3 linked regions of the Homo sapiens genome follow. The protein of the gene in region 1 purifies or fractionates together with the protein of each later gene. This does not show direct contact. Each region holds a gene or a part of one and is shown on either strand. Other genes may lie near its edges.

Region 1 (3,092 bases):
AAAAAAGTATAAACAAGTTTCCTTTTTGCCCATAAAGTCACAAAGAGAATGATTTATATACTTTCAGTAACAAATTATTCAAGACTCTTGATTTGTGAAATACTTGAGTTGCTATTAGTCTTGGTATAACCAAATGCCTGCTACCATGTGAGCCAATTCTTATTTGTCATTTTTAATTTAGAGGTTTTTTGTTTTTTGGTTTTTGTTTTTGTTTTTTTTTTTTTTTTTGAGATGGAGTTTTGCTCTTGTTGCCCAGGCTGGAGTGCAATGGTGTGATCTTGGCTCACTGCAACCTCCACCTCCTGGGTTCAAGCAATTCTCCTGCCTCAGCCTCCCAAGTAGCTGGGATTACAGGCATGTGCCACCATGCCCGGCTAACTTGGTATTTTTAGTAGAGATGGAGTTTCTCCATGTTTGTCAGGCTGGTCTCAAACTCCTGACCTCAGGTGATCCGCCTGCCTTGGCCTCCCAAAGTGCTGGGATTGCAGGTGTGAGCCACCACGCCTGGCTAGAGTTTTTTTTATAAAAGAGCATGTTCATTGACTTAGCCAAAAAGCAAACATAAATTTTAGTGAATATTTTATTTGGACATTTTAAAGTTTAGCTTTGTAACCAGAAGGTATGAAGGTGAACATTTATTCATAATCATTGAAATCTAACCAAGTCCTATTGCAGTTTATTTGTGGGTAGAATGGTTGGAAGTAGCATGCTCAAGACATTTAAAATTTTGAAAAAAAAGTCATGCATCTGATTGATCACCATATATGCTCCCAGAGCACAGCTCCTCCGTAATCCTGCTCTTCAGTGCTAGCATTGTTGATTCCTTGGATCCTGTATTTTCCTTCCTCTTCTCACTTGATCCCTTACTTATGTCTGTCAAGGACTGAAACGCAGTGGAAGGTGCAGGGAATTTTTGTAGGAATTGTTTGGCTTAATAGTCCATCAGCCTCCTGATGTTCCCAGAGTCATGCCCTCGTCTCAGGTGAAGCTGTGGAAGTGTTTGATGGAAACAGCTGTCCCTCTGTCGTTTTGTGAAGTTCTACTCCAAGTGGGAGTTGGGTGATATGGTTTGGATGTTTTCCCTCTCCAAATCTTATGTTGAAGTATAATTCCTAGTGCCGGAGGTGGGCCCTGCCGGGAGGTAACTGGGTCATGAGGGTGGATCCCTCATGGCTTGGTGCTGTCCTGGTGACAGTGAGTGAGTTCTTGAGAGATCTGGCTGTTTAAAAGTATGTGGCACCTCCCTACCACTCTCTCTTGCTCCTGCTTTGCCATGTGAGACGCCGGCTCCCCCTTCACCTTCTGCCATGAGTAAAAGCTCCCTCAGGTCTCCCCAGAATCCGAGCAAATGCTGGCACCATGCTTTCTGTACACCCTGCAGAACTGTGAGTCAATTAAACCTCTTTTCTTTATAAGTTACTCAGTCTCAGGTATTTTTTTTTCTTTTTAATTTTGTTTATTTTTCTAGTTTTTCTTTTTTTTTCAAATTCTCCCAGATCCTGATCAGGTACTTCTTTATAGCAACACAAGAACAGCCTAACACACAGGATTAAGTTGATTCCAGGTAAATAAATTAAGAGAAGCAATGACTCGCTGGAGACAGCAGCAAATTCAGCCCAGTTTTATTGCAAATAAAACAAGTCATTCAAGTGAATTGTGGAAATTGAGGGTGCACGTGAAGGGGTGGCAAGGGAACGGGACTCTTGAAGATGGTCAGTGTTTCCTTGGTTTGAACTTCAAAGCCACACTGTTGATGCAAAACCTCTGACCATTGGGCCCAGGTCCATCAGGAAACACGTGACCTAGATGAGCTTCACACTGCAAAGGACAGAAGCCTCTGTCATCTCCAAATGCAAACAAAGCTCTTTATGTAAAACCAGACAGACGAACCCCCCCAAAATCACTCCACTCCGGAGTCTGACATCTGTGTTAGGAGAAAAAGTCTATTGCATCCGAATTCAATTAAGAAATGAAAGAAAGCAGAACACAGTCATGGTAAATAGTTTTACTTTATCAATAGGATGTGAGCAAGTTATTAAATTTGGGCCTTTACAGTTACTCATCTAAAAATGGGGATAATTATCATACCTACATAAGAGAGCTGTGGGGACAATTAATTGATATATTACATGTAAAGCATTAACATAATTCCTGGGTAAGTACTGAATAATATTGTAGTACCCAGTGTATTATTATTATTTATTACTTAAGGCAAAACCACGCTATCTTAATCAGCTTGCCTCTAATGTTTTACAAAACCCATGAGTCAGAAAATGTGAGCAGCTAAGGATATCAAAATGAATTTGTGATCTGGATTTAAGCCACTCTCTCCTACGGGGCTCACAGAAGGCAGAGGTGCTGACGTCACCCGCAGCATTGCTCTGCAGGCCAGTGACACGCTGCAGGGTGCAAAAGGAGGGTGGAGAGATGGAGGTGCCAGTCACACTGGGTAAGTCAAAGATGAGATGCCAGTCACTCTGACAGGATAAGGACTTCCTGCTCCTTATCCCTGCTCAAAAGAAGGTGAAGATCCTACCTCTGTTCTCATCTCTGTGGAAGGTTAGAACCAGGAAAGGCCACATTAGAGAGAGGCTGGAGAAGACTTTTCTCTTTTTTGCAGTGCCCAGATTGAAGGGAGAGAGTGATCGTTATTGGCATGTGTAGAAACCCCATGTGTTCTGGGCTGGGTGTGGTGGCCCACGCCTGTAATCCCAGCACTTTGGGAGGCCGAGGCAGGTGGATCACTTGCGGTCAGGAGTTTGAGACCAGCCTGGCCAACATGGCGAAACCTCATCTCTACTAAAAATACAAAAATTCACTGGGTGTGGTGGCAGGCACCTGTAATCCCAACTACTCGGGAGGCTGAGGCACTTGAACTCAGGAGGTGGAGGCTGCAGTGAGCTGAGATCATGCCACTGCACTCCAGCCTGCAAAACAGAGCGAGACTGTCTCAAAACAAAACAAAACAAAACAAAACAAAGCAAAACAAAAAAGAAACCCCATGTGTTCTGAAGACAAAAGAAAGTACCCCTATAAAAGGACACCAGATTTGCCAAGAACAAGAGAGCTCTTTGTGGCATTGGGGGCAGCAT
Region 2 (3,757 bases), on another chromosome or scaffold:
CCCTTCTCACCACGACCACCACCAAGACACATGAGACAGCAGAGGCATTTGTTCTGGGCAGGACAGCTTTTCTGAAGAAATATAGTAGGTATCTAGGCAGACTACAGCTTCAAGAGCGAGGCTAGGTACCTCAGGGTAGGGCTCTCTCGACTTTGCCTTTTGGGGAAGGGAGCTGCCCTTATGTGAAGCCTGCAAGTTAGAATAAACCCAAGCTTAAAACAGCAAAGACCACTCATGCCACACATCCCCAAATTGATCAACCCAGTCCTTGTGTGTGTGTGTGTCCCCCAAACACACTGCTGGAGCTGAGAAGGAGCTGACCAGGTTAGTTTCGACAACTCAGTCCTTCATTCAGAAAGATGAACAACCAAGGATCATGATGGGAAAACCACCAGCACATAAGAGGAAAGGTCAGGAAGAACAAACAGAATAGTCCCTGAAGGAAGCAGATAAATTAGGGAACTGGAAGGAAATTTTCTAAAAATCTCATAGTGTCCTGCAAGAGTTTTGGGAAGATAGTACATCTGTAAACTGTTAATAAGAAGTATGTTCTAGGCTTAAAGTATAATAATAATAAAAAAAGAAGTATGTTCTAGGAAATGAAGCAATGAAAACAAAGAGTCTGTAGAAATTAGACATATGACTGTCACAAGATTCGGTACCTGAAGTAGATGATAAAATTTCGGAGATCTTATGGAGTTTAAAGCAAACTATAGAGAGGCAAAAAATATAATAGAAATGCAAAAAAAAATCAGAACTAATCTGAACTCCTGTTAATACCCGTCCAGTAGTAGGAGTTCTGGAGTGAAATAATTGGGAAAATGGAGGAAGTGACATTACCAAGTAAATAATAGATGGAAACTTCTCAGAGTTAGGGGAAAATAATTATTCTGCAGATTGAAAGATTTCACTGCTTACCAAGTAGGATGAATGAAAAGGGAATATATATATATCTTCTCTATATATATATATTCTATATATATATATCTTCTATATATATATTCTATATATATATCTACTATATATATATTCTATATATATCTACTATATATTCTATATATATATCTAATATATATATATGTGTGTGTGTATATATATATATATATATATATATATATATATAGTATTGCTAAAATTTTAGAATATCAGAGCATAGAAGATCCTAGGAGATTTCAGAGAGGAAAAAGCTATCAAGAAGAAAAAGGGTGAGAACCATTTTTGGCTCAAACTTCCTCAGCAACACCGGAAGTGGAGAAGTGCACTCAAAGTTCTGAAAGTTATTTTGTATCAGAATTCTGTACTCAAGCAAATTATCAATCAGGTGGAGTACAAAACACCAGAAACTTGGTGTATGAAAATTCAGAAACTAGACCACATCCAGTGCATCTTTTTTAAAACAACTACTTGGCCAGGCCTCGTGGCTCACTCCTGTAATCCCAGCACTTTGGGAGGCCAAGGCGGGTGAATCACGAGGTCAGGAGTTCGAGACCAGCCTGGCCAAGATGATGAAACCCTGTCTCTTCTAAAAATACAAAAATTAGCCGGGCGCGGTGGTGGGTGCCTATAATCCTAGCTACTCGGGAGGCTGAGGCAGGAGAATCGCTTGAACCTGGGAGGCAGAGGTTGCAGTGAGCCAAGGTCATGCCACTGCACTCCAGCCTGGGTGACAGAGCGAGATTCCATCTCAAAAACAAATAAATAAATAACAACTACTTGAGATTATGTGTGTCAGAAAGCAACAAAAACTCAGTTCAGGAAATAGGACAACATGGGATCCAAGAAGCTAGAAATAACCGCAGAATGCAATGAAAGCAAATCCAAGCAAACGGCTGAGCCGCAGGCCTAGAAAGAAGCGAATATATATTAGACCATTCAACAAATAGGAAGATCAAACAGCTAGAAGATATCAAAGACCAAGGAGGAAGGTGGCACTCTTGCTTCTGAATCTCTGCAAATGTGGTTCCTTCTACAAAAGGAAACCAGCATGCTTTATTGTTAACCTACTTTTTTTGAAAAAGAAAAAAAAATGGAACTAGTTATAGTTTTCTGCAGTTTAAACATTCTAAAAGATTGTATCATGTGGAAAGCTTTTTTTCTTCCTCATTACACAGGTGGAGAAACAGGTGAATGATGCCGTTTCTAAAGGTGCCACCGTTGTGACAGGTGGAAAACGACACCAACTTGGAAAAAATTTCTTTGAGCCTACCCTGCTGTGCAATGTCACCCAGGACATGCTGTGCACTCATGAAGAGACTTTCGGGCCTCTGGCACCAGTTATCAAGTAAGATCCTCCAGCCAGCGGGGAGATGGGAGGAAGAATAGAAGAGAACATAGGAAACCCTGAAAGAGATTCCTGGGCTGCTTTGAGGTCTGGCCAGGAGGCAGACAGTTGTGTTGAGTCCATTGAAGAGCAGAGTGCAATTTATGGGTTTTTAAAAAAATCATAACTTATTTGGACCATAAAATTTATCAAATTCTATTTTTTTTTTCTTTTTGAGATGGAGTTTCACTGTGTTGCCCAGGCTGCAGTGCAATGGTGCGATCTTGGCTCACTGCAACCTCTGCCTCCTTGGTTAAAGCAATTCTCCTGCCTCAGCCTCCAGAGTAGCTAGGACTACAGGCACCCACCACCATACCAGGCTAATTTTTTGTATTTTTAGTAGAGATGGGGTTTCACCATGTTGGCCAGGCTGGTCTCGAACTCCTGACCTCAGGTAGTCCTGCGTTGGCCTTCCAAAGTGCTGGGATTATGGGAGTGAACCACCATGCCTGGCCTCAAATTCTTTAATTTACTTTTTCTTACTTTCTGCTGAACTCTTTTTTTTTTTTTTCTTGAGATGGAGGATGGAGTCTTGCTCTGTCACCCAGGCTGGAGTGCAGTGGCATGATCTCAGCGATTCTCGTGCTTCAGCCTTCCGAGTAGCTGGGACTACAGGCACGCGCACCATGCCTGGCTAATTTTTTGTAATCTAGTAGAGATGTGGTTTCACCATGTTGGCCAGGCTGTTCTTGAACTCCTGACCTCAAGTGATCCGCCTGCCTCTGCCTCCCAAAGTGCTGAGATCACAGGCATGAACCACCGTGCTCAGACCTGAACTCATTTTCCTTCTTAATGTATTATACCTCAAAGGATTCTTTCATTGGCCTCCATAGGACATGAACTTTCTGTGTCGTTTTGTGGTCTTTTATCTCCCATTCACAAGTAGATAATAATTTACCTGGATAAAATTTTAGGTTCAACCCTTTGGAGATATTACTCCTTTATCCACTTTTTTTTTCTTTTTTTTGTTTTTTGTTTTGATATGGAGTCTAACTCCGTCATCCAGGCTGGAGTGCAGTGGTATGATCTCGGCTCACTGCAACCTCCACCTCCTGGGTTCAAGCGATTCTCTTGCCTCAGCCTCCCGAGTAGCTGGGACTACAGGCATGTGCCACCACACCTGGCTAATTTTTATACTTTTAATAGAGACAGGGTTTCACCATGTTGGCCAGGCTGGCCTCAAACTCCTTACCTCAAGTGATCCAACAGCCTCAGCCTCCCAAAGTGCTGGGATTACAGGTGTGAGTCACCACGCCCGGCCTCTTTATCTACTTTTATCCAGGGTTATTGCCAAGAAATCTGATTCTTGCTTCTTTGAAAGAAATCTATTTTTTCTCTTTGGAAACATTTAGAATTTCTCTTGATCTTTGATGTTCTTAAATTTTACTATCTGGTATGGCACACAGTGAGGTTTTTCAGTTGAGGTCCTAATATCTT
Region 3 (3,757 bases), on another chromosome or scaffold:
GAGAAAAGTACACAGCCCAAACATCCGTGGCAGCAGAAGTTTTAAGAGTGTTTTTATTCAATTGGGGAGTAATATTTCCTTTATAAATTTCATGCATTTTGGTATCTTGTTCATGAGCATGTCTCTGGAAAATTGGATGTAGAAGATTAAAATTGTCACAAGATTTGGGGAAGCTGGTATATGTTTTACTAAAAAAATCACAATCTTTAAAGTCTTGAAACAAAGCTTCTAGGTCAGAATGTCGACAGTTTGGACAGTGCCTTGTATTTGTGGCAATCATTTCAGAACTCTGAATAGAAATTGCACGTGGCTGATCTTGATGACATTCAGATTTCACTTCAGAAGGAATGACAAACTAGAAGAGAAGAAAAATTAATCTCATCCAACTGGCAAATCCATACATCTTGAAGATAAAAGAACATGACTTAGCTCAGAAATTCTTTTTCTTGACCTTTCCCCCAAAATACTACTTTCCTATTAAGACGTAAAACACTAACTCTTCCCCTCAAATCTTATTAAATTGAGTAAAGGGGACTTACATGACCACTAAGAAGAGAATCTTTTTAAAAAACATAACATGAATTAATAATCAATGTAACATACATATACGCACAAATCATAAAATAAAAAGAACAAAATTAAATCATTACTACTACTTGTTTGTATGATACCTTTAGCATTAAGCCATCAACTCGAACATCAACATGCTCGTCAGATTTTGAATTGTCATTCAACTTGTACACAGCCATGAACTGATTAAGACTCTGTTTTAAATCCAACAGAAATTGATTTAACCATAGAATGCTTCTTTCATCCACAGTAAACTGTAGTGCATTCAGCTGGCTATAGAGGTTGGGAGATGGAACTGTGGAGACAAGATGTTTTTTAAAAATTTTTAATTGGATGGTTCTAAATCTTCCCTGAGAACAAAAAATACATGTTTAGTCAGTTTTATTCTTTCTTAAGATAAAACAAATTTGAGGTATTATTTACAAAATCAAAGTGATACATTGGAATGATAACAAACACATTTAGATAGACAAAAAAAATTTCCCATGCCTAACTGAAAAAATGTTTTAATATTTCAAAATATCTATAACATATAAATATATAAAACACATGAATATTTTGAATATATAAATTAATCTAAAACTAACTGCATAAAACAGGAAGCACTGTTTCAATTTCTTTCCTAAGGTTGTATTTACCAAGAAGCAAACCTCTAAAAACATTACCTTCTTGATGAAGTATCACATCAAAGTGGTCCTCGATCACATATTTCTGTAGACTTTACAACCTGAATCTTAATCTATATCTTCTAAAATGAGAGAGCTAAGTTAACCAATTTCTTATGAAAGTGCTATGCTAGCAGGTTCTCCTTGAAAGGAGGGACCGTGCATAAATTTATTCCCCACTTTTAATCAAGGCCTATAATAGTGCTTGGAGTAATGTAAAAACCAAGTATCTCCTGAATAATAAAATGAATTCACTCTTTCATAGCTCTCCTAAAATAAACTAATATTTACAATTAGAGGGTATATCACTTCCTGAAATATACATATTTTTCTACCATAAAAGACATTTTGTTTTCAGAGCACCTTGAAGATCTTTTATTCTAAAAATTCAGACATATTTATTCCTACAAAAGCTAAAGTTATGCATATCTAGAGCATTTAGACTAAATTTAAGAAAAATAAATCAAAGGTGTGAGATACCAGTGGAGAGGGAACACTGTAACAATGTCCTGAATATGGTTTATTTGCTTATGTTATTTATTTATTCATTCACTTTCCTTTAAGATTCACTGAATGTCAACTACATTGTCTTACCCTAAGCACAAAGAAAACAAAAAAATAGGGCATGGTCCTTTTTCCTTAAAAGTTCGTAGTTTATTACATGAGACATATACAAACAGAGAAAAATTACAATTTAAGTCTATCAGAGACATGCAATTGTGAAGTGGAGGTGCCTGCCTTTTGGGAATAGAAATAAAGTGGGTGCTGCAGAGACTGCATCACACTCTGGAAGGAAAGGAAGTAAAGGGAATATCTCAACGTAGATTGATTGATGATGGTAGTCACAGAGTAGACTAGGGAGCAAATGCTGCCCAAGACTAGAGCACAGAAAGAACCCCGATAGCAGATGTGGGACTGAAAAAGGAACCCAGGACACTAAGCAGTAGAAAGATCTATATGCAGGGCCGGCGCGGTGGCTCACGCCTGTAATCCCAGCACTTTGGGAGGCCGAGGCGGGTGGATCACGAGGTCAGGAGATCGAGACCATCCTGGCTAACACAGTGAAACCCCGTCTCTACTAAAAATGCAAAAAATTAGCCGGGCGTGGTGGCGGGCGCCTGTAGTCCCAGCTACTGGGAAGGCTGAGGCAGGAGAATGGTGTGAACCTGGGAGGTGGAGCTTGCAGTGAGCCGAGATCGCGCCACTGCACTCCAGCCTGGATGACAGAGCGAGACTCCGTCTCAAAAAAAAAAAAAAAAAAAAGAAAGATCTATATGCAGTTTCCAACAGAAGTCTACTTATAAAACAGATTAGTATGTAGTTAATAATACTTAAAAGCAGCTTGTAGAAACTTTGAATATTCTGATATCACGAAGGGAAAGAAGCAGGGTGCAAATTAAATATGTAAAAGAAATACATGCATTAAAAACAAGACTAACAATGCTATACTTATTGCTATGGGTTGAATTGTGTCCCTCCAAAATTCATTTACTGAAATTCTATCCCCCTGTAGCTCAGAATGTATTTGGAGCTAAAGCCTTTAAACAGACAATTACGGTAAAATGAGTTCACTGGGTGGGCCCTAGTCCATTATGACTCATATTCTTATAAGAACCGAACAGGAGGGACATACACACATACACAGAAGGAAGACCATGTGAAAACAAAGGGGAAAGATGACCATCTACAAAGAGAGCAGTCTCAGAAGAAATAATCCTGCTGAAGTCTTCATCTCGGACCTCTAGCCTCAGAACTGTGAGACAATAAATTTCTGTTGTTTAAGCTGCATAGTCTGTGGTATTTGTTATAGCAGCCCTAACAAATGAATATACTTACGTTTGAGCAGATATCTAAAACTGCAAGCGTACAAGCATTGTTTTGGCTTTTTCTTCTTTATTGTTAAAATACAATGTGTACGTTACTTTCACAATGGTAAAACGAAAGTTAAGAGATTATAAAAGTTGGATCATTTAGTTTTGTTCAAAACAGAGATAATGAAGAATGAAAATTAACTCATCTACATGAGGGTGCAACATACTATATTCTCTACTTTTGTTTATTTTTGAAAATTTCTCTAAGAAAACATTAAATTAAAAAACAGTTAAACTTAATCTAGCAATTCCACTACCAGGTATCTACAGGGGTCAAGTTTAAAATGCAAGGAAGGAATTTTGTAACTTTTTTCAGAAAAAAAAGTACAGATTATAGAATGAGATTATAATTCCTTTGGTACATGCTAACAAAGCTTGTATAAATAAGCCTGGATGGCTGGGAGTGTTGTCTCATGTCTGTAATCCCAGCGCTTTGGGAGGCCAAAGTGGGAGGATGGCTTGAGCCCAGGAGTTTGAGACTAGCCCAGGCAACAGAGTGAGATCTTGTATCTACAAAAAATTTAAAATTAGCTGGACATGATGGCTCATGCCTATAATCCTAGCTACTAGCGAGGCTGAGGTGGGAAGGTCACTTGAGTCCAGGAGTTTGAGACGGCAGTGAGCCACGATTGTGCCACAGTACTCCAGCCC

What was found.
Region 2: the proteins of MSRB2 (region 1) and ALDH5A1 purify together in Homo sapiens (co-immunoprecipitation; 2 studies listed by BioGRID and IntAct, with this or other methods). This does not show direct contact.
Region 3: the proteins of MSRB2 (region 1) and BLTP3B purify together in Homo sapiens (co-immunoprecipitation; 2 studies listed by BioGRID and IntAct, with this or other methods). This does not show direct contact.

The regions. Positions count from the first base shown.
Region 1 is NC_000010.11:23,119,484-23,122,575, reverse strand, and holds the end of MSRB2 (methionine-R-sulfoxide reductase B2, mitochondrial precursor), read right to left. Parts: intron 1,819-3,092; coding exon 1,714-1,818; 3' UTR 563-1,713; downstream 1-562. UniProt on the Homo sapiens protein: Methionine-sulfoxide reductase that specifically reduces methionine (R)-sulfoxide back to methionine.
Region 2 is NC_000006.12:24,525,886-24,529,642, forward strand, and holds part of ALDH5A1 (succinate-semialdehyde dehydrogenase, mitochondrial isoform 2 precursor), read left to right. Parts: intron 1-2,111; coding exon 2,112-2,281; intron 2,282-3,757. UniProt on the Homo sapiens protein: Catalyzes one step in the degradation of the inhibitory neurotransmitter gamma-aminobutyric acid (GABA).
Region 3 is NC_000012.12:100,059,179-100,062,935, forward strand, and holds part of BLTP3B (bridge-like lipid transfer protein family member 3B), read right to left. Parts: intron 866-3,757; coding exon 672-865; intron 356-671; coding exon 1-355. UniProt on the Homo sapiens protein: Tube-forming lipid transport protein which mediates the transfer of lipids between membranes at organelle contact sites. Required for retrograde traffic of vesicle clusters in the early endocytic pathway to the Golgi complex.